Linked DNA regions of Homo sapiens. The protein of the gene in region 5 interacts with the protein of the main gene of each other region in a pairwise test. Each region holds a gene or a part of one and is shown on either strand. Other genes may lie near its edges. The genes, in order: TMEM254, FAXDC2, TMEM11, CMTM7, ELOVL4, SYNDIG1 and FA2H.

Region 1 (4,074 bases), on a different chromosome or scaffold from region 5:
CAGAGTTTCAACCATGTTGGGCACGCTGGTCTCGAACTCCTGACCTCAGGTGATCCGCCTGCCTCAGCCTCCCCAAGTGCTGAGATTACAGGCATGAGCCACCGTACCCAACTCATCTCATAATTCAAAAGGAATATTTATTCTGATTCATAGTGACTAATGATACATTCTAACATGTTAGACCATAAATGATTTCAAGAACATAAGAGTAACCTAACCTCTATGCCTGTTCTCCCTCTGCCCTTCAAAAAAATTGTATATTAAATTTGAGGGCCGGGTGCGGTGGCTCACGTCTGTAATCCCAGCACTTTGGGAAACCGAGGTGGGCGGATTACGAGGTCAAGAGATCAAGACCATCCTGGCCAACATGGTGAAACTCTGTCTCTACTAAAAATACAAAAAGTAGGCTTGGTGGCGGGCGCCTGTAATCTCAGCTACTTGGGAGGCTGAGGCCAGACAATCGCTTGAACCAGGGAGGCAGAGGTTGCAGTGAGCTGAGATTGCACCACTGCACTCCAGCCTGGCGACAGAGCGAAACTCCGTCTCAAAAAAGAAAAAAATAAATAAAAATAAAAATAAAAATTTTTGTATTTTGGTTTTCATCAGATACTCCAAATGCCAACAACAAAATAGGTGTCACGCACTCCTACATTCCAAGTTGAGGGGCTGGACCGGACACTTCCAATCTGAGATTCTACTGCGATGCTGCAGAGGCCATTGGAAAGAGGTCCTAGTGGGCTGTGGCATTTCCCACAAGTCAAGCCCAGAGAATGGCCTCAACAGAACCATTTGTAGAGCTTGACATGAGTCTCTGGAATTTGGGGAAGGGTTTAATATCTGATTCCAAAGAGTAAACACTGTTTGGTCTGCTTGCTGGGAGAGAAGGAAGCACCGCCACACTGATAACTGCATGCACTTGTAGATTATCCCACTGGAGGGATACGGAAGTTGTTTACTGTGAGCCATACAGATCCTGGAGAAGGCACTGAACATGAGTAGGTTTAAAAGGGACCCTGTACCACAGACCCACCTGAAGGACGGAAGTGATCTCAATAAAAGGGTAATTCTCCCTAGAACACAGACTCTGAGGGTGAAACTGCAAGTGGCATGCTGGAGGGGGTGTCTGAATGAACCATCAAGGAAACTGCAGAAGGGAGATCCCTGGTGATGAGTAGTGTCTCAAAAATCTACCACATCCCCTCTAGAGAGAAAGAGCCAATACTGGATATGCAATATACACAGTACCTAGCTGCCTGATCACAAGGCAGCAGCTGTTTATTGTTTTTTTTTAACTTTTATTTTTTTTGAGAAAGGGTCTTGCTCTGTCACCCAGGCTAGAGTGCAGTGGTGCGATCTCGGCTCACTGCAGCCTCTGCCTCCCGGATTCAAGCGATTCTCGTGCCTCAGCCTCCTGAGCAGCTGGGACTGCAGGCACGCACCACCATGCCTGGCTTTTTTAGTATTTTTTGTATTTTTAGTAGAGATGGGGTTTTGTCATGTTGGCCAGGATGGTTTCAAACTCCTGGTCTCAAATGATCTGCCCACCTTGGCCTCCTAAAGTGCTAGGATTATAGGTGTAAGCCACTGCACCTGGCCAGCAGCAGCTATTTAAGGCTGAGCCTTGTTCTCCCTAACTATTCCCACTATCCCAAGGGACCACAAGCAGCGATTATTAGTGAATAGAGGAGAAGGTGAAGTGCAAGAGAAGATATCAACTGCACCCTTCTCCCCACTGCAGGCTCCTGAGCCCCAGCTGGATGAAAACAGACATTTTGAATTAGAAGAAAGTTTATAGTTTTAACAATAGACTGGGCTAGAATAGATAATATCAGATGGTGACTGGAAATCCTACGATCTGTTTGAAATTCCATCCAGAGATACGGTGGAAGGTGGGGAACGATCTACAAAACAAATTTACTTGGAGAGGGGTGAGAAAGAAAGAATAAAGTTACTTTCTGCTCCTCTTCATAGAAAGTCTAGCTTGTGGCCAGGCACAGTGGCTCATGCCTATAATCCCAGCACTTTGGGAGGCGAAGGCAGGCGGATCACCTGAGAGGTCAGGAGTTCGGGACTAGCATGGCCAACATGGTGAAACCCCGTCTCTAATAAAAATACAAAAATTAGCCAGGCATGGTGGTGGGCTTCTGTAATCCTAGCTACTGGGGAAGCTGAGGCAGAATCGTTTTAACCCAGGACGTAGAGATTGCAGGGAGCCAAGATTGCGCCACTGCACTCCAGCCTGGGTGACAAAGCAAGATTCCCTCTCAAAAAAAAAAAAAAAAAAAGTCTAGCTTATTTGTTTAATAAACAAGAAAACAGAGTAAGATCATTCTATTTAACATACTTAGCAGTCTCTGACATAGCAGTACCCAATCAATATTATTTTTATTATTGAAACATAGTAATAGCAATACAGTATCTTATTTTCCACTTTTAGAATAGAAAAATAATAGAGGTGATAGTATATCTTGACCAGAAATTAATTCAATTAATTATTATCTTGACCAGAAATTAATTGGAAAGAAGCAATTTGGCATTTCCATAACCATGTTTTTCATTGTACCATACTTTCTGTATATGCTTATATAAAGTACAAACATAATTTTTTCTTGTATTCTCACATAGCATTAACCTATACTAGCATCTCCTGAGTGGGGTCTGGTTTGGGGGCTTTTAACTAGCATTGCATCCTAGAATTATCTGTGGAGCTTTTAAAAAGAGCACATTCCTATCTCTGAGGCAAGACTTACCCAATCAGAATCTCTGGGTCTGGAAACCAGACGTGTGTATTTTGAAAAAGCTCCTCAGGTGGCTCAATTGTAAAACGAGGATTGTGAGTCATCGGCCTAGGTCAGTCACTTAGCTCTTTTGTAAACTAGAAGCCAGGCTCCTATTCCTAGTCTTTTGATCTAGTTGGGGCTACCCAGAAAATTTGTTAAAAAATAACAAAAGTCATCTGAATTAGATAACTAAGTAATTGGTTAACCAACATAAACAAAATGAATGCATTCATCAAACATTTACTGGGTACTGCCTCTGCTCCAGGCTCAGTATCAGGCATGGGGATTCCGCTCTACCCTGAGAATATTCTCAGCCTACAAGTGTGTGAACTATTTAAATGTGGCTGCTCTCAATTTATATTAGCTACTAAGAGAAAGGCAACAAACACCTACTTCAAAGACTTACTTGCACAATACTATGGCATACAAGGACTCTCCCACATGAATCAGCCAGGCAAGCCAATACCTGAAACCAAAAAAAAGGTTAATCTTTTTTAAGGTGATAGTTATCTGCTGATGAAATCTAACACAGCAATCTCAAAAAGAAAAGTGCCTTAAGGTGAACCGACACTACTCTTAGATACCAAAAGGCAGCTGCAGGCCTTCCAGGTTTCCCATGAGACCAGAGCTCCAGTGTCCACAGTCCACTTGTGCAGCTCTCCTTACCCATTGCACAGGAGGGTGTGATGGTGGTCCACCAAGTACTGAGTGAAGGGGCCCAGGGGCCCAAGGTTCTGATAAGGGATACTCTGAGGCCAGAAGACAACCCACTGAAAGAGAAGCAGAGACACAGAATACCTATTAGGTCACTTAAAACCTGTTTTTTGTTTTTGTTTTTGAGAAAGGCTGTGAAACAGTAAAAAAATTACCACAGACCGAAGAAACTCTGAACAGTCATTTGGGTCTCCATTCTTGGCTTCTATTTTCTTTCTTTCTTTTTTTTTTGACAGGGTCTCACTCCGCTGCTGGGGCTGGAGTGCAGTGGCATGATCATGACTCACTGCAGCCTCCACCATCTGGGCTCAATCCATCCTCCCACCTCAGCCTCCCAAGTAGATGGGACTACACGTGTGTGCCACCATGCCCAGCTACTTTTAAAAATTGTATATAGAGATGGGGTCTCACTATGTTGCCCAGGATGGTTTCCAACTCCAGGGCTCAAGCAATTCTCCAATCTTGGCCTCCCAAAGTGCTGGGATTACAGGCATGACCTACTGTGCCAGGATGACTTCTATTTTCTAAAAGCAACTCTACTGGGAGACTTATGCTGAGGAAAGTATGTGGTTATCAGACT
Region 2 (4,074 bases), on a different chromosome or scaffold from region 5:
GGGGCCCACTTCAAAGGAGTGGGTCAAGAGCACTGTTTGCCTTTCTGGAGTGCTGGGCTGGGGCAAAAGGACCTGAGAGCTGAGGTGGTTCACCCAGACACCTGGGCAGATGACTAAAAGATGATTGTCTTGTCTGGGAAAGAAGCCAGGATGTGGTTTGGGTGGAGCTGGGTAAAGAACCTGGGTTTCAGAATCAACTTCTTCCTTGTTGTGTAGGAAAAGGCGAGCCAGACTCAGGGAACAGTGGGACCCACTTCCCGGCGCTGTGCAAGTCAGAGTTCCTTGTAAGCAGGGTCTGGGCCTCACTTATCATGGATTTGCCCTGGTGCCTTTCACTATTGGTCGAATTGAGTATTTCGGAAGGAGAACTTGTTTAAAAGACAGCCACCGCCCACACATTCAGAATCCATACTATCCGTCTATTACAGTGGAGTTATCCATTGTTTTCGCAGCTGTCTCCCTCTCTCATAACAACAGCTGTTACCCATATTCTAGCATCCACCCATTGCTGTCTCCATTCCTATGGGTAAAGTGGAGTTGCCTGCCTTCTCAGTGCCAGGCTGACCACAGTGCCATGGGGCACCACAGGCAGGTCCAGAGCCTGGGCCAGGAATCAAGAGACCAGAACACTGGTCTTGACTGGCCACTAGCTGAGTGACTCTGAGGTTGTGGGCAAATTATTTCCTCTCTTTAACCTTCTAAACTGGGGGAGCCTTGTTGCTAATAACTTGGCTCACACTGGCCAGGTCTCTCCTGGGCCAGTGGTGAGAATTCTGAGAGTGTGGCTTTGGCTCTTGCTTTCTGTGCTTTGACCAGAAGTTGCAACAACACTTACAGGTTCATTCTTGCCGACCTGAATTCGGTAGCGAGAGATGAAGTTAGGTTTTCCTGTTGTGTCAACCACCAATAGAAGCCCATTGAAGCTCCAGAAGAAGAGACAAGGCACTTGGATGGCACCTGAGATTGGGAAACAGAAACAGTCAGGGCGACTTTGGGTTCTCACAGCACATAGACTAACAGAACATACTTTTTTGTGGTGACTGAGGCTTCATCCTAGACATTTCTTTGCCAGGGAGGTCTTAGGGCTTGGGACCAAGGGGTTACCTGTAGTCTTGGGTAGGAACTTGGACAGGCCATTTAAGGAGTGTCTCCATTTTCTTAGCCATAAAATAGGGACAACCTTCAAGGTGGTTGGTGGTTTTCATATAAATACATATGAAAGTATGTTAAGATATATAATACCCTCTAAAATAGAAATGAATTCAGGTTGACATTTGGGAGTCTGCGCCCACTGAACCCTTTATGAATTGCCAAGGAAGGAGAAGCAAAGGAAGTACTCTGTATGGTATGGGTCACAGTGAGCCCTGGGCTAGGAGTCAGTCAGGAAACTTAATCCCTGTCATCCTACTAACTGAGCAGCAGAACTTCAGGTGTCATCTAGTCAGTATAAGTGGAAAACTCATCGTTGTTTTTTTTTTGTTGTTTGTTTGTTTGTTTTTTTGAGACAAAGCCTCTCTCTGTCATCCAGGCTGGAAGTGCAGTTGTGTGATCATGGCTCACTGTAGCCTCGACCTGCCAAGCCGAAGTGATCCTCTTGCTTCAGCCTCCTGAATAGTTGGGGCTACCGGCACCTGCCACCATGCCCAGCTAGGACTCGGCTTTGCTTAATTCCATGTCTGTGCCCCTCCACCAGCACCCTTCATGCTCCATCAACCGAAGTAACTGTGGCGGCTGGGACTTGGAAAATACTTGCCAGCACTGTAGGGGAGTAGGATTGGTACAAACCTTCTAGAGGGCAATTTGGCAGTAACTGAAGTAATAAAGTGAGAGAGTCAGAGAGCCAAGACAGAAAGGGAGAAAGAAGAAAAGGACACACGTCTGTTTGTATGCATAAATGTCCGTCACAGCATTAAAAAAAAAATTTAAGCAGCCTAAATACCCATTAGTAGGGAAGGGACTAAACAGATTAGAGTATTTCCATATAATGGAATAGAATGGGAAGCTTAGAGTATTAAGTAAGGCTACATTAATAGGCATGGAAAGATACCTACAATCTATTCAATGAAAAAAAGATTTAAAAATAGTTGGTATCTCATAAGTACAACTATATACCCAATATATAAAAGATGCACACTAATATATAAACAGTGGTTATTTCTTGAAGGTAAGACAGTGGGTGATTTTCACACTTTCTATGCTTATTTGAATTGCCTGATTTTTATTTTTAACAATGAGCACATATTTACTTTTGTTTTTTTTTTTTTTTGAGACAGAGTCTTGCTCTGTCACCCAGGCTGGAGTGCAGTGGCGTGAGCTCAGCTCGCTGCAAGATCTGCCTCCCGGGTTCACGCCATTCTCCTGCCTCAGCCTCCTGAGTAGCTGGGACTACTGGCGCCCGCCACCGCGCCCGACTAATTTTTTGTATTTTTAGTAGAGACGGGGTTTCACCATGGTCTCGATCTCCTGACCTCATGATCCGCCTGCCTCGGCCTCCCAAAGTGCTGGGATTACAGGCGTGAGCCACTGCGCCTGGCCCATATTTACTTTTATACCCAGAAAAAATAAACTATTTTTTACTTTGGAAAAAAAAGGCTGATGGTTACCCAGTGGGCCATCCAAGGTGTCTACCTACTTGGAACTTCAAAGGCTGCCTGAGGAATACAGATGAAAAGCACACCGTAAGACGATCTTAAACTTCTTCTAGCTCTAACACTTAAAATTGGAAATATTTTCTCTCTCTCATATTGGCTTATCACCAAGGTAATAGGTAATTTTCACAGGATTGTACCTAACATATATAAAATATTTGAGGTTTTTTTAGATTGCAGGTTCAAGCTAATAAAGTTTTTCTACCACCTTCTCCATATACATAGGTAATCTGCATTGTTCAATGACTGCTTAAGATCCCATTAAATCTGTCATATTTAATGTTCAGCCCATTGTCAGAGTCCTCCTTCTAGTTGAAAACAATCCTCAGGTGCATTTTGCTTTATAGCAACTGACACTTTTTATCTTCCCTTCTAGACTATGACATCATTTTTTAATGGGGGAGGGAAACATTTCATTTAAATACTTCTTTTTTTTTTTTTGAGACAGGGTCTTGCTCTGTCACCCAGGCTGGAGTGCAGTGGTGCTATCTCAGCTCACTGCAACCTCCACCTCCTGAGTTCAAGCGATGCTTGTGCCTCAGCCTCCTGAGTAGCTGGGATTACAGGCACGCACCACCACGCCTGGCTCATTTTTTGTACTTTTAGTAGAGACAGGTTTCACTATGTTGGCCAGGCTGGTCTTGAATTCCTGGCCTCAAGTGATCTGCCTGCCTCAGCCTCCCAAAGTGCTGGGATTACAGGTGTGAGCCACTAATCTTGGCCTATCTTAATTTTTGTTTTTTTTTTTTTGAGACAGAGTCGTGCCCTATTGCCCAGGCTGGAGTGCAGTGGCACCATCTCGGCTCACTGCAACCTCTGCCTCCCAGGTTCAAGCAATTCTCATGCCTCAGCCTCCTGAGTAGTTGAGATTACAGGCACGCACCACCACACCCAGCTAATTTGTGTGTGTGTGTGTTTTTAGTGAAAAAGGGATTTTGCCATATTGGCCAGGCTGGTCTCGAACCCCTGACTTCAAGTGATCCACCTGCCTTGGCCTCCCAAAGTGTTGGGATTACAGGCGTGAGCCACTGTGCCCAGCCCCATCTTAAATATTTCTTTCTTTCTTTTTTTTTTGAGACGAAGTTTCACACTGTCGCCCAGCTGGAGTGCAGTGTCATGATCTTGGCTCACTGCAACCCGCCTCCCAGGTTCAAGTGATTCTCCCTGCCTCAGCCTCCCAAGTAGCTGGGATTACAGGAGCCTGCCACCATGCCCAGCTAATTTTTTTGTATTTTTAGTAGAAACGAGGCTTCACTATGTTGGCCAGGTTGGTCTCAAACTCCTGACCTCGTGATCCACCTGCCTCAGCCTCCCAAGGTGCTAGGATTACAGGCGTCAGCCACCACGCCTGGCCTCCCATCTTAAATATTTCTATATCCTCGATACAAGTGTAGCACATAGTAACATTATATATTATATGTCATAT
Region 3 (4,074 bases), on a different chromosome or scaffold from region 5:
TCCTAGGTTCAAGCGATTCTCCTGCCTCAGCCTCCTGAGTAGCTGGGATTACAGGCGCCTGTCACCACACCTGGCTAATTTTTGTATTTTTAGTAGAGACGGGGTTTCACCATGTTGGCCAGGCTGGTCTGAAACTCCTGACCTTAGGTAATCCGCCCGCCTCGGCCTCCCAAAGTGCTGGGATTACAGGCGTGAGCCACCGCGCCTAGCCTGATCTATTTTCATGTATAGCACCTTTGATACTTTGTCTTATATATCTTGCCTTAGGGGTTTTTAAAATTATATTATTGAGACGGACTCTCACTTTGTCACCCAGGCTGGAATGCAGTGGTGCAGTCTCGGTTTACTGCAGCTTCTGCCTCCGGGGTTCAAGCGATTCTCCTGCCTCAGTCTCAAGTAGCTGGGACCACAGGCATGCACCACCACGCCCAGCTAATTTTTGTATTTTTAGTAGGGACACAGTTTCACCACATTGGCCAGCCTGGTCTTGAAGTCCTGACCTCAGGTGATCTGCCCACCTCAGCCTCCCAAAGTGCTGGGATTACAGGCGTGAGCCACCATGCCCAGCCTTATCTTAGATTTTTTAAAGTTATATGTTAAACACATCAAAAGTTATGTTTACAATATGTGAAAAGTAATAAACATGCCACAGCATGATGGCCCTTAAAAACATAATGCAAAATGAAAGAAGCCAGTTGTTGAAGACCACGTTACAGGATTCCATTTAAATGAAATACCCAGAATTGGCATATCCAGAGAGTTGGGAAGCCGACTGGTGGTTGTGGAGGGCTGGGGAGATGTGAAGGGACCACTAATTGGTACAGGGTTTCTTTCTGAGATGATGAAAATGCACCAGGATCAGTTGTGCTATTGGTTGCACAACTTTGGGAAAGCCACTTCATCGTTCACCTCCGATGGGGGAGTTGCTCTGTGAATTCTATCTCAGTAAAGCTGTGAATTCTATCTCAGTAAAGCTGCCATTAAAAAATACAAATCAGGCCAGGCATGGTGGCTCATGCCTGTAATTCCAGCATTTTGGGATCACCTGAGATCAGGAGTTCGAGACTAGCCTGGCCAACATAGAGAAACTCTGTCTCTACTAAAAATACAAAGTTAGCTGGGCGTTGTGGCACGTGCCTGTAATCCCAGCTGCTTGGGAGGCTGAGGCAAGAGAATTGCTTGAACCCAGGAGGTGGAGGTTGCAGTGCTCCGAGATTGTGCCACTGCACTGCAGTCTGGGTGACAAGAGTGAAACTCCGTCTCCACAAAATAAATAAACAAATAAAAATAAAGAAAATGAGACCAGGTACAATGGCTCTTACTTGTAATCCCAGTGCTTTGGGAAGCTGAGGCTGGCAGATCACTTAGGAGTTCGAGACCAGCCTGGCCACCATGGTGAAAACCCTGTCTCTACTAAAAATACAAAAATTAGCTGGGCGTGGCAGCACATGTCTGTAGTCCTAGCTATTTGGGAGGCTGAGGCAGGAGACTCGCTTAAGCCCGGGAGGCGGAGGTTGCAGTGAGTCGAGATAGCGCCATTGCGCTCCAGCCTGGGCAATGGAGCGAGACTGCCTCAAAAGAAAAGAAAACGGAAAATAACAAGTGTTGGTGAGGATATGGAGAAATGGGAACCCCTGTGCGCTGCTGGTGGGAATGTACAATGGTGCAGCTGCTCTGGAAAACAGTATAGAGATTCCTCAAAAAAACTAAAAAATTGAACTGCTATATGATCCAGCAGTTCCACTTCTGGGTATATATACCCCCCCCCCAAAAAAAGCAGGGACTCAAAGAGATGTTTGTGCACCCATGTTCATAGCAGCATTATTCACAATAGCCAGTGGTGGAAACCGAAGTGTCCATCACAGATGAATGGATTAACAAAATGTGGTTTATGCATACGGTGGAACATTACTGAGCCTTAAAAAGGAAGAAAATTCGGATACATGCTACAATATGGATGAACCTTGAAGACTCGTTATGCTCTGTGGAATAAGCCAGACACAAAAGGGCATATACTATATATGATCCAACTTGTATGAAGTACTTGTATAGTCAGATTCATTGGGGTAGAAAGTAGAATGGTAGTTTGCAGGGGCTTGGGGTTGGTGGGGAATGGGGGGATCATTTCATGGGTAGAGTTTCAGTTTGGGAAGGTAAAGGAATCCTGGAGGTGGATGGTGGTGATGGTTGGTACATCAGTGTGCATGTGCTTAGTGCCTCTGAACTGTACACTTAAAAGTGCTTACGGTGGTATATTTTACGTGTATTTTACCACACTTTAAAAAAGGCAAAGTGATAGTTGTGTGGGCTCCCCACCCAGCGCGATAGAGAACTAGCGTTACCCTGGCCTGCCTCCTCCTGCAGCGGAGACCCTGTGCCCCAAGTGCACCACAGCACCCTTGCTGTCCTTATAGTTGGCTTTCAGTGGCACGTCCCTGAGCTCTGCCGCCTTAGAATGTGTGAGAGTTGTATCCCTGGCTCAGGCCACTGGAACTGATTCATGTCACTAATGGAGGAGGTGCGATTCTGCTCTCCCCGCTCCTGTCATCTTTTGCTCTCACCGAACAGTTCTGCTCTGAACCTTCTTGTGCGGCTCTTGCCTTTTGGGGAGACGCCTCCAGACTGTGGCTGCTGGGACAGGCACAGGCTGCCCACATCCCAGAGGGGCCGTGGAGTTGCCCTGCTGAGTTTTCACTGTGGCCGCCTTTTAACTGGAATGCTAGTGTTGCCAGGGGATTCCTTTGCTGACTGCGAGAGCTGATTGAGTTGGGCTCAAAAGTGGAGAGATGAGGGCCTGAAGGCTGACTCTGGTTGAAGGCTGAGGGAGGAAGTTCAAGATGCCCACTTTATGAGTGCCTGCAAGCTATCCTGAGGCGGCAGAGAGCGGTCCCATTCAGTGTCTGCAGCAGTCCCCCTGAGGTGCTGGAACGGGCTGACCCCTGCTCCCAGCACTAAAGGCTCAGAGAATCCAAAGCTTCCTCAGTGCTGGCATGATGTGTTTAGGATCATGACACTGATCCTTTTACTTTTCTTCTTCCATATGTTAAGACCCACTTCCGACAGTGATCTTTAAGTACCAGAGATCATGCCAGATTCAAAAGGATCAAAAGTCATTTACTAGAAAGAGCCTCCCTTCCTTTTCTTTCCTGAGCCCCTCAGTTCCCTCCCTAGTGACCAGTCATAAAAATCAGGTCTTTGTGTATCCTTTCAGAAGTGTTCTGTGCATATAAAAGCAAATAGAGACTTTTAAAAATACACTACGTATAGCATACTGTAAACACTCTTCTGAACCCTGCCTTTTCCCCTGAACTTGCTTTCAGTTGGAGACTTTGCTGTTACTGCTGCTACCTTTTTCTCTTTTTTTTTTTTTTTTTTTTTTTTATTGAGACGGAGTTTTACTTGTTGCCCACGCTGGAGTGCAATGGCATGATCTCAGCTCACTGCAACCTCCGCCTCCTGCGTTCAAGCAATTCTTCTGCCTCAGGCTCCCAAGTAGCTGGGATTACAGGCACGTGCCACCAAACCCAGCTAATTTTTGTATTTGTAGCAGAGACAGGGTTTCACCGTGTTAGCCAGGCTGGTCTCGAACTCCTGATCTCAGGTGATCCGCCTGCCTTGGCCTCCCAAAGTGCTGGGATTACAGGCATGAGCCACTGCACCTGGCCACTTTTTCTTTCTTTTTTTTTTTTTTTTTAAACATAGACTCTATTAATTGCTCTCTTACTGGTCATTTCACACCTGCAATGAAAAGCAAAAATACAGTCCCTTAGGAAGCCCAGGGCTCAAAAGATTCCAACTAGCTCTTACTTAAAAAAAAAAAAAAAAGTCCATATAATTTAAAAAAAAAAAAAAAAAGGAAAAAAAAAGATCTCCCATGCACCAGGGTTCAGATCACCCAGTTCCTAAAGCCCATGGCCTTACCAGTTAGGGGGCAGCTGGTGATGCTCTGCAGTGGTTTGAGATAACCTTCTGACTGGGTTCTTTCCTTCATTAGGTTTTGTTTGACCCACAAGCAGAAGCAAGCCATATACGGGTGGCTGCTGGGTGGTCAGGAGCTGGCTGGACGTGGCTGTC
Region 4 (4,074 bases), on a different chromosome or scaffold from region 5:
ATTTTGGTATATTGTGTCTTCATTTTCATACATCTCCAGGTATTTTCTGATTTCTCTTATGATTTTTTTTCTTTGATCCATTCATTATTTAGGAATATGTTGTTTAATCTCTATATATTTCCCTGATTTCCCTCTGCTCTTGATTTCTAATTTGATTCCATTGTGTTCAGAGAACATATTTTGTAGTCCTTCTTACCTTTATTGAAGTTTGTTTTATGGTCTGATATATCGTCTATCCTGGACAATGTTCTGTGTACATCTGAGAAGAATGTACTTTTATACATTGTATATTTGTATATTATACTTTTGCTGGATAGAGTTTTTATAGAGGATTTTTAGGTCTAGTCATTTTATGGTGTTGTTTGAATCTTCTATTTCCTTGTTGACCTTCTACCTGGTTGTTCTATACATTGCTGAAAGTAGGGATATTGAATTCTCCAACTATTATTTTTGAATTGTCTGTTTTTCTCCTTCATTTTTCTCATTTTTCACTTCATGTGTTTTGGCTCTTTTATTAGGTGCATATACGTTTATAATTGTTATATCTTACTTACGGATTCAGCTTTTCATTGTTATAAAATGTCCCTCTTTATTTCTAGTAACTTTTTTTTGTGTTCGATTCTATTTTGTCTGATGCAGTGTAGACACCCTGGCTTTCTTTTGGTTGTTGTTTGCGTGCCATTTCCTTATCTTTGAATATAAAGTCTCTCTCCCATAGACAGCACATACTGTAGTTATTTCTCGTTTTGCTTTGGTTTTTTAATCCAATCTGACCACCTCTGCATCTTGATTAGATTGTTTAATTGTTCACACTTAACACTATTACCCACTGTTATTTTGAGAGAAATTTCTTTTGTGTTTCTAAGTTCTAAGGCCCCTTTCAAAGTTATGGCATTTTTTTCTGCTTCTTTTGAGAACAAATTCCTCTGGGGCTTACCTGATGCAGATACTGAACAAGCAAAGGAGAGAACAAAAGCTCAGGGACAAGCACAAGAGTGGGCTGCATGAGGAGTGAAAGTTGGAAGGACAGACTCAGCCACACATTTTTGGCTGAGATACTATTTAAGTACTTCCGGTTAGGATTCTCTCAAGTTGGTTTTCTCTGCCCCATGTCATCCTCCTCTGTCTTAATAGTTGAGAATCTTGGAGGTGGGGAACTTGCAGTTACTCATCTGTTCTTCAGTTAAAATCTCTGTGATCTATCTTGTGATATTCCTTTCTAGTCACTAAGGGAGAAACCAGGGTCTTTGATTTTACATAGCTTTGAGAGGAGCTACAGCTTTAAATTGGAATGCTTTTCCAAAATTTAATAGCTGCCTGCCCTAAGGGGCAGAACTTCATGAAGGAATGATTTCTAGATTCTCATTGAAGACAACTGAAAATGGATGCACCCTGGATTCAGAGCAAGCACTGGAAGTGGCCCCCAGCCTCAGTTCTTCTCGGATCTGATGTTTAATGGGGAAGAGAAAGGGTGAGATGGAAGCTTTCCCTCGCCACTGAAAGGCCCATCTCATCCAGGGCCTGCAAGGATGCTGATTAATCATGATGAGTGAGTGGGGTGGAAATGCATGGCCCATGGGCCAAGGCGAGAAGCAAAGGTGGAACCAGTCCTGCCAGTGGATTCATTGGCAGAGCTTGGCCGGGAGGGCACTCTTCTGGAGAAAAGAGAAGAGGGAATGACAGGAAAAAAAAAAAAAAAGGCAGGAAGGCTCAGGAGTGAGAAAGCCAGCTGCCACCACACATCCACAGGCACTTCACAGAAGTGCCACTGACCTCATTCTAGAGTCTGAGTCTGACGGGACCCTGGGAATGAATACCTCTCAAGTCCACACTTGGGGCCATTCACAGAGTGGGCTGACACTCCCATCAGTCACACAAGACCAGCACATTGTTAGCCCAGAACTTTCTCCGAAGCAGAAGAGAAAGGCAAATATCTCTTTAAGGTACTTTGCTTCTCCGAGCTGGAGCTTTGTTTAAACTCTCCAGCCGGGAAGTTGCAAGAAGCTCGTTTGCTTTTTAGTAGCTTTAGCCAGAGGTTAAGGCACTGTCCACAGATTGCTCTCAGGAGTAGAGGAGTCCTTAGTGGCTATCTCTGCTCACACCAGAAGCTTCCTTTCTCTCTGTCCTCTTCCCTTCCTGCCTGCCCGGCATCACTTCTGTCTTGCTTGGCCTCTTCCTGGTCAGCCCGCATGTTGGCTGCCTGCGAGCGGCTCTGCTCATCCCATTTGCGTGTTGCAAGGGAGAAGAGGAAGCGTCACTCTCTCCCTTTCTTTTCATGTCTTCTGATGCCCAGTTGCTCTTCCCGGACCAGAAATGGACGGCCCTACCCACTTATTTGCTTTGTTTCTGCCCCCAGGAACTTCTGCACTATTTAATCGGTACCCTGCTCCTCCTCATCGCCTCCATTGTGGCAGCTTCCAAGAGTTACAACCAGAGCGGACTGGTAGCCGGAGCGGTGAGGATGTTTTGGGGAGCCTTTAGGAATGAATTCTTATTTAAAATGCTCATTTTCTTCCTGATGGGGGAAGAGAAGGGCTTGGTTTCTGGGGCATTCCCTTCATAGAATCAATACCTACCTTGATCCAGCCATCAGCTCTCTCCAAAGAGCCTTAAGCAGAGGCGTACAGTCCCAGAAGGTGGATTGTCAGGGCTGCCAGCAAATTCATAGACCCCAGCAGCCCAGGCCTCTCTCTCTTACAGGCACTACTGAAATCAGGGGGCCAGGCGGGTTTTAATTCACACACCCACTCTGATCATTTGCTCGTTGGCTGCCTCAGCACTATGCAGAGACAGATGCTGGAGCCTCTTTTGGGCCCAGTGGGAAATGTACTGTGATCAATTAGAGATACATGCCATGAGCCTGAGCTTTGCCATTCCTGATTTTTAACAGTATTCAGGCCAGGAAATAATACTCCTGTATCTTTCAGAGGCAAAAATTGATCCATCTGATAGCCATAAATAGAAGTAGATGGAAATATACAAAAATACAGTCCTGTGAGATATATACATACATATATATGTATATACATACAGATGTATATGCTATTTTTTTAAAGATTCATAGATTCCTGTCATCTGATTTCTGATTTAGCTAACTATTTATAGTTCAGTGGCCTGTGGGCCAACACTGATTTGCTTCACTGATGAGCAGACAAGATTTTAAAAATGAGTTTTGAGAAAAGCTCTCTCAAGCCAGATGTGGTAGCTAGCATGCACCTGTAGTCCCAGGCACTCGGCAGGAATGCTTGTGCCCAGGAGTTCGGTCTGGCCTGGGCAACGTACTGAGACCCTGTGTCTTAAAAAAAGAAAAAGAGAAAAAGAAAAGCTCTCTCTGTATGTGACATTCATTGTCTTTCACTTACGTATATTACCAAAATTTTCCAGACTTTGGCCTGGGAGTGGGTTGGCTCCTGGAATTCCACTGAGGGATGGAGTCTCTCCTCTGAAGGTCAGCATGGGGGCAGAAGGTCACTGTAGAGGGTGGCCAAACCTCCCAACACTGATGCTCCACATGGCCCTCCCACAGCCCACCATCACACCTCTCTGCCCCCTCTCTCTGCTGTCTCTGAAGAGAGGGATGGTTGCCCCCTGAAGCTTAACACCTGCCCAGCTACAGTGCAGGGTACTGGAAGAGGCACACAGGAGACCTGTGCCCACTGTGTTTCCGGGCCCACTTGAGGAGATTCCCACTGTGTTTAGTAATTCAGGTTGCACATAACTGTTTAGCCCTGGAATCTCTATAGCTAACATTCATCATATGCTGTCTGTGTGCCTAGGACCAAACCTGGGCTATGAGGAAGTTAGAAGAAATTTTTAAAATATGGTCCCTGCTTATAAGAAAGTGGTCATCTAGCTTAGGAGACAAGACACATGAAACAATTAGTAAACAAGGCGTTGTAGTCTAGAATAGCATTCTGTAGCGATATAATAAACTGTTCAATTATGCAGTGCAGACAGTTGGGGACCGGGATGGTATATAACGTGCTAATTGTGCAGAACAGACAATGAGAGGCCGGGACAGGCTCTAATAGGCTAATTATGTGCTGTAGACAATTGGTACAAAAGGAGCCCAGG
Region 5 (4,074 bases):
ACCGTTTCTGTGATCGTCTAAAATTCAGACCGAAGAATGAGTGACTATAAGATACATGAAAAATCTCATCCTTTAGACAACTGGATGTGAACAGGGGGAGAATCCCCAAAGTCACTTAATGATTGCTTTGGTCTGGAGAATATCAAGGCTAATTTTTAAAAAAAATGTTTAAAATAAAAACTTCATAAATAAAACATCTGGGTATGGTATTAACACTTTACTCAGTCTAAGAGTTACTAGGACATAGAGCACATTTGTCTTTTCTCCCCACCCCCAAGCTCTCCTTTGCTTCTGTTTTCCCTGAAATTTTATATGATATGGGAGTTTTTCCTCACTGTCAACAACAGTTAAGGCCCAGTTCAATTTAATCTCCTTTTGCTTTTCCATTTTTCTGCTTTTTTCCATTTTCTATCATGAGTTGTTTTTCTGATTTGCTCACACCATTTGCTGAAATACCATTCATGGCTGTTTTTCCAGCTTTTGGTTTCTTAGGCTCTTTGTATGTCCGAATGTAGAAGTTAAGAAAGAGAAATATGAAGCTGATTGCATAGGCAATTAGAGCCCAGTGCATCCATTTGGGGAAGGGGCAGTCAGTGTAAAGAGACAGTGCCGTGTGCCCAATGGTCACATGGAATTGAATCTGAAAAACAGAAATGACAGCACAAAACATTTAATCTGAATAGTAAACAACTTTTAACAACATCGGCATCTTCTACATAGCTATCACAGGCCCAAATTTTGCCACACTGTGCAAAATTTATTGTTTTCTGGCTCCCATGGCTAGCTCCTCATTCACAACTCAAATGCCATCTCCTCAGTAAGGACTCTCTGACAAGACTTCAATTTCAATTGGCCCTCCCAATCCCATTAACCAAAGAGCTTTCTGCATTTTTTTTAAGGAGAATTATACCTATTTGAAATTGTCTTCTGTATTTGTTATTTCTTTATTGCCTATCTTTCCACTAGAAAATGACTCTAGAAGGCAGGGCTTTGTCTTGCCCATCGGTGATTCTTGAGTCCTCAGCACAGCATCAGGATCAATGAATATGTGTTGAATAATGTTATCTGATGAAAGGGAATCAATGGCCTAGGAGAGTAAAGTAATAGTATTGTAGGCTCTTCAATTTTGTTTTCCTCCCACATTTTACATTGGTTTCTTTCTATCAAATTGTCAGCAAGCAGATACACATACTTAAAATGAGCTTATCAAAATGGCTCATTTATTTCTTACAGATAGTAGGCAGGTAAATTTTTATTTGAACGAACACTATCCTTTAAAAACTAATATTTTGATGGCCAGGTGCGATGGCTCATGCCTGCAATCCCAGCACTCTGGGAGGCCGAGGCGGGTGGATCAACTGAGGTCAGGAGTTCAAGACCAGCCTGGCCAACATGGTAAAACCCCATTTCTACTAAAAATACAAAAAATTAGCCAGGTGTGGTGGTCCATGACTGTAATCCCAGCTACTCAGGAGGCTGAAGCAGAAGAATAGCTTGAACCCAGGAGGCGGAAGTTACAGTGAGCCCAGACTGCACCATTGCACTCCAACTTGGGCAACAAGAGCAAAACTCCGTCCCAAAAAAAGAAAAAAATAATATTTGGATAAAATTTAGTAGATATTTCAGAATAAATACAAAAAGAATCACTTTCAACTTTAAGAATTTTTAAAAGGAAAAAAGCCCAAAGTGAGATGATTAAAATGAAATAGATTCTGATGTATCAATAAAAGAATGGGTCAAGACATAATGTTAACAAGGGTTAACTTTTTATACAATTAACTTATATGACTAACTGTTGTGGGAACTTCTGGCTTGGAAATACAAACTCAACATCCTGTTTGAAATGGACAATTGTGGTTTCTCTTTTAAGGATAGCATTGTTCTTAAAATATTAATTATTGATTAAAATAATCAGTATTACTTATTTTAAATATTAAAATAATGTATGCCATGTAAGCTAAAAATTTATACTATATTAAACTTTTATAATTTTCCTTGGCAAATATTTTAATTTGAAGAACTTGTGGTTTCACAATGGTTTTTAGAAGCTGCATCACCAAAAAGGGTGTGTATAAGGGTGTGATTGGGTATGGCATCACTCAAGGAGAGCCAGGTGTAGGCTCCAACAAACCAGATAGGACTAATTCACATGATTTTGATCACCTCTTCATTTTCTTAGGTCCATTTACTACTTACTGAGAGAAATGAATTACACAAACTGTGTTAACAGCTTTTACACAAAAACTGGAGGAAGCTTCCTATACCACTCCGGTTACAAATGAATCCTTCGCACCCAGCATTTCCCAAAAGTTGTGCTTCCTGTTTGGTTAGCCAGCTGTTTAGCAACTTAAAGCAAAGATGAATATTATTTCCAAATGTGATTCCACTGATAAAATTGTGCACATGCTATGATTAAAGCAAATTATAATAAATTCTAAAGCTTGAAAAATAGTTACCAGGTTGGCTTTGAATTTCCAGTTTGATTACAGGCTAGTGCCTAGCATCTGAAAGGTACACTAATGCACACACTCAGATTGCCACAAACAGTCTTACTAGCGGGATGTGCTGAAAACTGTCTGGACTAAAGACCACCATTTGAAAATATCTGTCTCTGCTCTCTTAAGGACAGTGTTTTAGAGAATTACAAGGAGTTCTCTTGCCCTTATTCCCTTCCTTTGCCCCACCCCTTCCTTGGCTATGTGCTTTCTTTTCAGCTGTTTAGTCTAAATATATGAGATATGTTAAAGACTGAAAAATGAAATAAAAAACAAAATTTTTAAGCAAGGACAAGATGAAGAAAGGTAATAAAATTTTAAGTTAAGAAAATCACCTGTAGGGAAAAAATACATATTATTTTTCTATTCATACTACGTACTTTGTAGCGTGCTTAGATCTTTAATCATCCTTTCCACAAACATCTTTAGAGAATGTTTTCCTTAGAGGAGTAAGGGCTATGTCTAGTCTTTTAAGCATATTATAAAAACAAAGATTTGCTGGGACCAATAAGTCTATGAATAGGTCATCTAGAGTCAAGTGGGCATAACTGCGATATAGCTGGAGGATAAAGTTAATTTCATAATAGAAAATTGTCTAAAATGACATTGCACTTTAAAATTAATCAAATTTAAACAATTTCAGTATTTTACCAGAAGAAACTTTGGAAGCATTTAACTCACCAGTTGCAACATAGTCAGGTATCGTTTCCACCAAAGATATTTCTGAATCCATGGGCCAAATGCAGTTAACCCATAGTATGAGTACATAATCACATGGATAAAGGAATTCAACTGGGCTCCAAAAAATGCTTTAGAAAAACAACAGGTAATTACAAGATACAGAAAATTTTATTAGGCAGTAAGCCACTGAGATGTACAATAAATGAATACACATTATTTTTTAATATTTAATCTTGAGTACAGATTAGAAATGAAAAATATAAAGTAGTACTAATGAAAAAGTTTTCCCTTCAGATTAAGCTAGATATTTTTAAAGTTTAGATTTGAGGTTTTACCATATAAATAAAAATGTATGTTCAAATGCAAAGGACTTTCACAGTTGTAGGTTTTCAAATGGAGTACTCCAGTGAGCTTAAATAGGCCCTTAGAACTGTTGCCTATGTTACTTTTAATTCTACTATTCTTGCCTTTAGATGTGCCAATATATATATCTGCAACAAAACAGTACTTATTTCTTAGGTTTCTAAATAGTTTAAAATATGACAGCACTACACACATTGAATAATTCATTTAATATAGATAAATCTACAGAGATATTCCAGTCAGTCAAACTCAATGACATTCTTTCTTTTCAGAATATTAATTTAATCAAGGTATAGATGTAATAATAATTAATTTTTGTCATAAAGTGATCTAAGTCAGTTCAGATTTACTAATTTTCTTTTAAAATTACAGAAGTTGCCTTTAACTGTATTGTTTTAAACTGGGCCCCCAATAATATATGTATGAATTCCTAAGCTGCCAATTATCATAATATGACAATGGAAAGCAGCAAGGTGAACTATACTATAATGACTTGTACCCTGGATCCTCCTCAGAGGAATAATCTGCATCAAGC
Region 6 (4,074 bases), on a different chromosome or scaffold from region 5:
ATACTAAAGTAACATCGATGAAACAGCAAGTTGTTTACTTAGGCACTTTAGTGAGACTTTCTGGTCGGCTTCCAAGGAGCTCACCTGGACCAAGAAATGGCCCCTTCCACAGGCTCTGAGCAGAAGGAATGGAGACACATTATGGCTGCTGCTGCTTCTACATGCGGCTCAGGATGCCAAGGAGGATTTCAGAGCCTCACCACGGTGGTTAACTTCGTCCTTTTTCTCTGAAAACAAAGATTTTCTCAGAAACATTCTTACAGTATAGCTATGGTGCTTTTCATTCCCTTCTTCGGTAATTAACAAAATACTAATGACTGGTTAGAAGTGTCATTGAACATGCAGTAGCTGTTCTTTGGTTTACTGTTTTCTCCATTCCATTAAATAATAAAGGGTCATGTATTGGTTAGCATTTGCTGCATAACAAATCACCCCCAAAACACAGTGCCTTAACAACTCTTTCTTCAGCTTATGATTTCTGAGGGTCGGCAATTGAGCTGGGCTCAGCTGGGTGATTGTTCTGCTGGTCTCACCTGGGCTCACTCACTTGTCCATAGCTAGCTGTGATAGGCTGGGAAGCCAGCCTCTGGTGGGCTGTTGGCTGCAGTGACAGAGGTAACTGCATCACCCAGCTGTCACCCATCCTGTCCCAGGCTTCATTTTGCGGCAGCCAGAGAGGTGGGGCCCACTTTGTGAGGGCTTGTCAAGTCTTTGCCTGTGTCCTGCATGTTACTATCTCATTGACCAGAGCAGGTCCCACAGCCAAGCTCAGTCAGTGTGGGAGAGACTGCTTAGGGTCACAATATAGGGAAGTGATAACAAATTGGGTGCCAGTACTGCAACCACAGAGCCAAAAACCATAGACTTTTGGCATCATTTTTTTTTTCAGATGGTCTAACTGAACAGAATGACAACTACTGAAACAAAAGAACAGTGAATACTGATCTGAGCTCTTTCCAGAAGGCAGTTCTACTCAGCCAAAAAAGAAAAAAAAATGTGATTTTTAACTTCTTTGAGTATTGTATAGCTTCACTTGGTTTATAGCAAATGGATACTGTTTCCCAAATAATGCCGTTTTCAAAAAGCCATTGCCCTGGTTCAGAATGGGGCCCCCTCATTGCCCTTGTTCAGAGGGGGCCACCTCATTGCCCTTGTTCAGGGCCCCTCCCATTGCCCTGGTTCAGAGTGGGGCCTTCTCATTGTCCTGGGTCAGAGCAGGGCCCCCTCATTGCCCTGGTTCAGAGCAGGGCCCCTCGTTTCCCTGGTTCTGAGCGGGGCTCCCTTGCTGGAGCTCCTGGGCACTGGGTGGCTGGCTGTGTTTTCCCCAATCACTTTCCCAAGACAGGTGCATCCCTGGCATTTATGAAGGAGCCTCTCCAGGTCCGAAGAGGTCGGCCTGTCTGACATATGTTTGCAAGGGCATGTGGAGCGTTCAGTTTGCCTTCGAGGTTGTGGTAGTAACAAGAACAGGTTCTATGGCTAACTTTGAGAATATTTATGGGAGGTTCTCAACTATTCGGCAAGTGTTTATGATCTGTCCTGCTCCACCTTAAGTCGCCAAGTAGAGCATGGCTTGACATTAGACAGGTAGATGTAGGGGACCTCTGGGGCTTTGCGGGAGTGCAGAGGTGCCATGCCGCTCATTATCTAGTGCCACTGCGCTCAGGGTGACAAGACAGGCATCCTGTGGGGGTGCCCTCAGGGCATCCTGGGTAGTGATAATTGGGCCTGATGTCCGACAGCCCAGGCCTCTTCCCAGGTATGTGAACACTGCTTCATCCACTTCCCAGCCAGTAGCTAAAAACTGCTGTCTCTGGGAATACCAGCAGTGGGAAGCCACTTCTCCTTTCACACAAATAAACTCAGAGAGACTTCAGGGACAAGTAATGAAGTAGGTCTACAAAATATACAATTTGAGTTTACAGCCATGAAATGAAGTGGATGGAGTCCAGGTGCAGAGGCCTGACCACCCTCCTGCCCTTAGAGATGGTGACCAGATGTTGAATGGCACTTACCTGTGGCAATGCAAAACCTCTCAGACCTGAAGTACATGACGGTCACCACCTAGAAGCGGTGCCCATGGGGGCTGAGCCTTTTCTTCACTGAAGGAAGAAGGGGGAAGGGAACGCTCATCGATGGAGCACCTTTTCTGCCACGCCCTCCAAGTGCACTTGGCCATCGAATCCTCGAAGCGCTTGGGGATGGGTCATGGTGCTGTCCTCATCCTACACGTGGAGAGACAGAAACTTGGGGTGTTTCCAAGATCACACACGTGGCTCTGCTGTCAGCCCTTGGATCTGAGACAGATCTCCTGACTTTAGACTCTGTCTCCTCATGATGATGCTGTTCTTTCTACATTAGGGGGAAAAATGTGTTCCAGTAAACTTCTGTTTCAGCATTATGCCAGAGTCCAAGGACAAAGCAGGAAGAGACGGCACCAGGACTTCACTTCTGTGAACTCTCCGCCAAGCTTTCCAAGGCCTTCCAGTCTGTCTTCCCATGTAAAAACTTGAAAGCTGTTGGAGGACACAGAATTCTATAACTGCAATAGAGCACTTTACATATACCTCAGTCATAAGTATGGAAAGAGGGGCGAGGACTCAACACACATGTGAAGAAAACCCAAAAGCATGAATGAGACAGAACAACAACAAATAGAACAGTTGACCCAGAGGAAAGAGAAAGAGTTCAGAAAATAATAAACAGCATTTTGAAAATTATTTTTAGTATCTCCAGAGAGATTTGAGGTGCTGCTGATTTGGGTGGAAGGAAATTTGGGGGTTTTGTTTTGCTCATTTGTTTGTTTACCTCATAGCACTGGCCAGAACCTCAAATACATTGTTTAGTGTGAGTGAACGAACATCCTTGCCTTGCTCCTGATCTTAGGGGGAGCTTTTAGCTTTCATGATGAAAGGTGATGTTTTTGTAGTTCTTTGTAGACACTCATAATCAGGTATAGGAAGTTCCCTTTGTCACTACTTTGTTGAAGAGGTTTTTTATTTTATTTTTTATTTAATTTTATTTTTTAATAGACAAATAAATGGGATATTCATATTCATGGGGTATATAGTGATGTTTTGATACATGTAACATATGGTGATCAGATCAGGGTAATTAGCATATTCATTATCTCAAACTTTGATCATTGCTTTGTGTTGGGAGCATTCAATAACCTCCTCTTAGCTATTTGAAACTGCATAATATATTATTTTTCAACTGTTTTCATGCTACAGTGCTGTAGAACACTGGAAGTTATTCATATCTAGCTGTAATTTTGTATGTTTTAATACATCTCTTCCTATCTCTCCCTTCCTCCTACTCTGCCCACTCTCTACTATTCTTCCTTCTACTTTTACTTCTATAAAATTAACTCCTTTTAGCTTCCACGAGTGGAACATGCAATGCTTAACTTTCCCTCCTGACTTATTTCATTTAACATAATGTCCTCCAGTTTCATCCATATTTGCTGCAAATGACATAATTTCATTATTTTTTTATGGCTGAATAGTATCCTGTGGTGTTGAAATGGGAGAGTTCCCTGATTCCCCTTGCAGGACGTGGGGTGGGTGTGGTTCACCTGTTCTGTTGCTGCTCAAACCCCTTGCAGGACTGGAGCATGCAGAAGGGCAGGTGCAGAGGCTGGGGCGAGTGCTTTATGCTCTGGCCTTGCAGTAGTGTCTAGGGGTGGGTGACTGCAACCCCACTGTTACAAAGCTCTTTCAGCTTTGCTGTCCACAGACGGCTTGAATACTAACAGGCTCAATGGGCCCTTTGCCTTTTCGCAAGGACAGAGGGCTGGATCCAGAGCTGTTGCCCAGCATCCTGGAAAAATCAGGTCACATACGGGCTTGAAGGATGAATGTGAAGTTTTTTTGAGTGGTAGAGGTGGTTTTCAGTGGGATGGATGTGGAGCCGGGAAGGATACTGGAGTGGGAAGGTGATCCTCCCCTGGACTTGGGCCACCCAGTGGCTGGACTCCTCTCTGACCATCCCCAACCAAACTCCTCTCGGCATTCAGATGTTCCTCCTCTTCTCCCTTTCTCTGCCATGTTGTTCTGCCATCTGTCTATTTGC
Region 7 (4,074 bases), on a different chromosome or scaffold from region 5:
CATGTCCCTTGAGGGAATATGGATGGAGCTGGAAGCCATTATCCTTAGCAAACTAAGTCAGGAACAGAAACCAAATACCACATGTTCTCACTTATAAGTGGGAGCTAAATGATGAGAATTTATGGACACAAAGATGGAAACAACAGATACCTGAGGCCTCCACCCGAGGGTGCAGGATAGGAGGAGGGAGAGGAGCAGGAAACATAACTAATGGGTACTAGACTTAACACCTGGGTGACAAAATAATCTGTACTACAAACCCCCATGACATGAGTTTACCTATTTAACAAACCTGCACATGTATTGCTGAACTTAGAAGTTTAAAAAAAAAAAAAGAATAGGAGCAATTAGAGAAGATTGAGAACCACTGTTCTGAGTCTATGTGCTTTAGAGAATTTTGCATGAAAAGACACCAGAAAGAGTAAACAGGACTAGAAACCCAGGCAACCTGGGACATACCTATGAGTGTCACCCAGGTACTTATAGCTACATGAGGACTGGGGGGGTCTTAACCCTGAGAGCAATGTGGGTCTTGATTGAGATTTTCTATGGTTAACTTCACTTCTAACCCCTGAAGGAGACTCATGGGACGGGTAGACTGTAAGAGCCTGCTAAGGGAGAGGTTTTGCTAACTCTCTCCGGCTGCAAAGAACCGAGGACAAAGGCAGAAATGAGTGACTTGCTTGATGGTTCTCCATCCTTTCCATCAACTCCCAACCTTTTAACAAGACACAGAAAAGAGATTTTTCTTAATCTTTTTTTTTTTTTTGATACAAAGTCTCGCTCTTGTCCCCCAGGCTGGAGTGCAATGGCGCGATCTTGGCTCACTGCAACCTCCGCCTCCTGGGTTCAAGCGACTCTCCTGCCTCAGCCTCCCAAGTAGCTGGGATTATAGGCATGCGCCACCACACCTGGCTAATTTTTGTATTTTTAGTAGAGACGAGGTTTCACCATGTTGGCCAGGCTGGTCTCGGACTCCTGACCTCAGGTAATCCGCCTGCCTTGGCCTCCCAAAGTGCTGGGATTACAGGCATGAGCCACCGTGCCCGGCTATGTTTCATTCTTAAAGTATCTTGCATATGCTAATATTTCCTTTTCAATTATGCACGTACCTCAGTTTTCCAAGCAACTCATTCATCCACTTATTCAAACATTTATTTATTCATTCATTCATTTTTTTGAGACAGGGTCTCACTCTGCTGCCCAGACTGGAGTACAAATGGTGCAGTCACGGCTCACTGCAGCCTTGACCTCCTGGGCTCAAGCAATCTCCCAAATAGCTGGGACTACAGACACATGACCACGCCTGGCTATGTTGGAAAATTTTTTTGTAGACCTAAGGTCTCACTATGCTGCCCAGGCTGGCCTTGAACTCCTGGTCTCAAGCTCTCTTTCTGCCTTGGCCTCCCAAAGTGCTGTGATTACAGGTATGAGCCCATACCCAGAGCATTCAAATATTTATTAGTACCTATTGGTATGTACCAGTGGTGCCTGTGTGTGCTAGAGAAATCCAGGTGAACTAGACAAGTCCAGTCCTTGGGGAGTTTACAGATTAGTAGACAAAACAATAGGGAAGACAAGAGCCACAGTGGAAATATGTTAAATAAGAAAGAATGTTATCTGCTGGGTGTGGTGGCTCACACCTGTGATCCCAGCACTTTGGGAGGCCGAGGCAGGTGAGGTCAGGAGTTCAAGATCAGCCTGGCAAACATGGTGAAACCCTGTCTCTAGTAAAAATACAAAAATTAGCTGGGCATAGTGGTGGGCACCTGTAATCCCAGCTACTCGGGATGCTGAGGCAGGAGAATCACTTGAACCTGGGAGGCAGAGGTTACAGTGAGCTGAGATCGTGCCACTGCACTCTAGCCTGGGGCCGGGGGAACACAGCAAGACTCTGTCTCAATAAAAAAAAAAAAAAGTTATGAATGCTGTAAGATAGGTTCAGGTAAAGAGCTATGAGAGTCTGAGTGAAGGGGAAAAAAGCAGATATAGGTGAGGAGGTAAGGAGAATCTCTGTGGAAGAAAGAGGATTCAAGCTGGACTTAAGGGATATGGCAATAGGGAGCCATTGAATACTTAGGAGCCCTGCCATAACATGATCAAGTTCTCTTCAGAAAGGTTCAGAGACAATGGGGAACAGAGGAAGACCTGCCCAAGAGACTGCGACAATAGTGAGTGTAGCGAGGCTCTAGCCAAACTAGGGCAGAAGTGAGGGGAATGTTCCAGAAGGAAAACTAAGGGGGGGGGCTCCTGAAGATCAACAGGTGGTCCAAGCCATTGGCTCTTCTTGCTCCAGTTACTCCCCATTTTCTCCCTCTGCCTATGGATTCTCTAGGACAGAGTAGCCAATGGAAACGATTACTGTGAAGAGTAAGAAAAACATCAATAATACCCCAGACATAATACTGAGTGAAAGCAGCCATCAACAGAGTGCATGATGCCCATATAAACATGAGGGATTCACAAAACTATCCTATGGGGATAGAGATTAGAACAGTGGCTGCCTCTGGGAGGCGCTGTTGCCTGGGAGGAGGCAGGAGCCTGTGCTAGGTGCTGGAAGAGTTCTAGGTCTCGATCTGGGTGGTGGCAACAGAGATGTTTACCTAGGTTAAAAAAAAAAAATTGGCCGGGCATGGTGGCTCACGCCTGTAATCCCAACACTTTGGGAGGCTGAGGCAGGCAAATCGCGAGGTTAAGAGATCAAGATCATCCTGGCCAACATAGTGAAACCCCGTCTCTACTAAAAATACAAAAATTAGCTGGGCGTGGTGGTGTGTGCCTGTAATCCCAGCTACTTGGGAGGCCGAGGCAGGAGAATTGCTTGAACCTGGGAGGCGGAGGTTGCAGTGAGCCGAGATTGTGCCATTGCACTCTAGCCTGGTGACAGAGGGAGACTCATAAAAAAAAAAATCACTGAGCTGTATGTTTAAACTTTGTGCACCTTTCTGGGAAATGAGAAGTGAGAGAAACTAACAATGGAGACTGAGAAGTCACAACCGGGGTCTGGATGGTGTGTGAGCCACAATCTGTGAATATGCTACCTGACTTTTCAAAAGGGACTCTGCAGATGTCATTAAGTGAAAGATCTTGAGATGAGATTATCCTGGATCATCTAGGTGGGTCCAGTGTGACCCCGAGTGTACTTCTAAGTGGAAGATGGATGTAGGAGCATCAGTCGTAGGAGGAGACGCAGCAACAGAGGCAGAGGCTGGCATGATGAGATTGCTGGCTGGGCCAAGAGCCAAGGAATGCAGGCAGCCTCCAGTAGCTGGAAAAGGCAGGAAAAAAGAATCTCCCCTAGAGCATCCAGAAGGAATGCTTCCCTGCAGATTCATTTTTTACTTTGGAACTGTAAGAGAGTAAATGTGTGTTGCTTTAAGCCACCGAGTTTGTGATAATTTGCCAGAGAAGCAATCAAAAATGAATTCAGGTGGAAAACTAAAAGGGTATGGCATCCAGCAGCCAGGTGAAGAAAGTGTACTGGAGGGGAGGAAGGGTGATCAATGGTGTCACCAGTTGCTGCCAGGCCATGCAAGGTAAGGTGAGCACTGACCACCGGGTGGAGGAAGGCGAAGGTCCTGGTAACGCCAGCAAGGGCTGTTTCTGTGATGTGGTGGGTTTCAGAGCGCATGGGATGCTTATCACCTGTCTAAATAAATGAAGACTACATACAGACCAATGAGGAGCATGTGTCATAAGAAAAAAAATAAGCGAAGATGATGAATGCTGTTGCCGAAGCATCAGTCTGGGTTATTTCCCGGGAATACTTCCAAAGACAATTACTCTCATGTATTTCTAGGAATCCTGTTTGTTTCTTTTTATTTCCTCCAGAGAATCCTAATTTTTGACCCTCTTCCCAATTCTGGGTCTCAAAGCCTCTTTATTCACTGAATTGTGGGGTGACACCAGAGAGCACTCCTGGAGCTTGTGCTGACCCTGGGGTGGCCATGGAACTGCAGTGACCTGGGCCCTGGATGCCCCACCAGCTGGCCCTAGCTTCGTCCTCCAGGTGAGACTCGACTGGCACCACAGCAGGCCAGAGTGTAGAAGCCCCTGCAGGTGGTAGAGGGCAGT

Evidence for each region.
Region 1: the proteins of ELOVL4 (region 5) and TMEM254 interact in binary tests that used the Homo sapiens proteins (3 or more experiments, as listed by UniProt).
Region 2: the proteins of ELOVL4 (region 5) and FAXDC2 interact in binary tests that used the Homo sapiens proteins (3 or more experiments, as listed by UniProt).
Region 3: the proteins of ELOVL4 (region 5) and TMEM11 interact in binary tests that used the Homo sapiens proteins (3 or more experiments, as listed by UniProt).
Region 4: the proteins of ELOVL4 (region 5) and CMTM7 interact in binary tests that used the Homo sapiens proteins (3 or more experiments, as listed by UniProt).
Region 6: the proteins of ELOVL4 (region 5) and SYNDIG1 interact in binary tests that used the Homo sapiens proteins (3 or more experiments, as listed by UniProt).
Region 7: the proteins of ELOVL4 (region 5) and FA2H interact in binary tests that used the Homo sapiens proteins (3 or more experiments, as listed by UniProt).

What each region holds. Positions count from the first base shown.
Region 1 is NC_000010.11:80,081,317-80,085,390, reverse strand, and holds part of TMEM254 (transmembrane protein 254), read right to left. Parts: intron 3,752-4,074; coding exon of another isoform or gene 3,650-3,751; intron 3,551-3,649; coding exon 3,447-3,550; intron 3,247-3,446; coding exon 3,187-3,246; coding exon of another isoform or gene 3,183-3,186; exon of another isoform or gene 3,174-3,182; intron 1-3,173.
Region 2 is NC_000005.10:154,829,966-154,834,039, forward strand, and holds part of FAXDC2 (fatty acid hydroxylase domain-containing protein 2), read right to left. Parts: intron 958-4,074; coding exon 836-957; intron 1-835. UniProt on the Homo sapiens protein: Promotes megakaryocyte differentiation by enhancing ERK phosphorylation and up-regulating RUNX1 expression.
Region 3 is NC_000017.11:21,203,743-21,207,816, reverse strand, and holds part of TMEM11 (transmembrane protein 11, mitochondrial), read left to right. Parts: intron 1-4,074. UniProt on the Homo sapiens protein: Plays a role in mitochondrial morphogenesis.
Region 4 is NC_000003.12:32,447,098-32,451,171, forward strand, and holds part of CMTM7 (CKLF-like MARVEL transmembrane domain-containing protein 7), read left to right. Parts: intron 1-2,356; coding exon 2,357-2,455; intron 2,456-4,074.
Region 5 is NC_000006.12:79,916,244-79,920,317, forward strand, and holds part of ELOVL4 (very long chain fatty acid elongase 4), read right to left. Parts: intron 3,305-4,074; coding exon 3,177-3,304; intron 641-3,176; coding exon 365-640; 3' UTR 1-364. UniProt on the Homo sapiens protein: Catalyzes the first and rate-limiting reaction of the four reactions that constitute the long-chain fatty acids elongation cycle.
Region 6 is NC_000020.11:24,545,910-24,549,983, forward strand, and holds part of SYNDIG1 (synapse differentiation-inducing gene protein 1), read left to right. Parts: exon of another isoform or gene 1-2,720; intron 2,721-4,074. UniProt on the Homo sapiens protein: May regulate AMPA receptor content at nascent synapses, and have a role in postsynaptic development and maturation.
Region 7 is NC_000016.10:74,764,405-74,768,478, forward strand, and holds part of FA2H (fatty acid 2-hydroxylase), read right to left. Parts: intron 1-4,074. UniProt on the Homo sapiens protein: Catalyzes the hydroxylation of free fatty acids at the C-2 position to produce 2-hydroxy fatty acids, which are building blocks of sphingolipids and glycosphingolipids common in neural tissue and epidermis.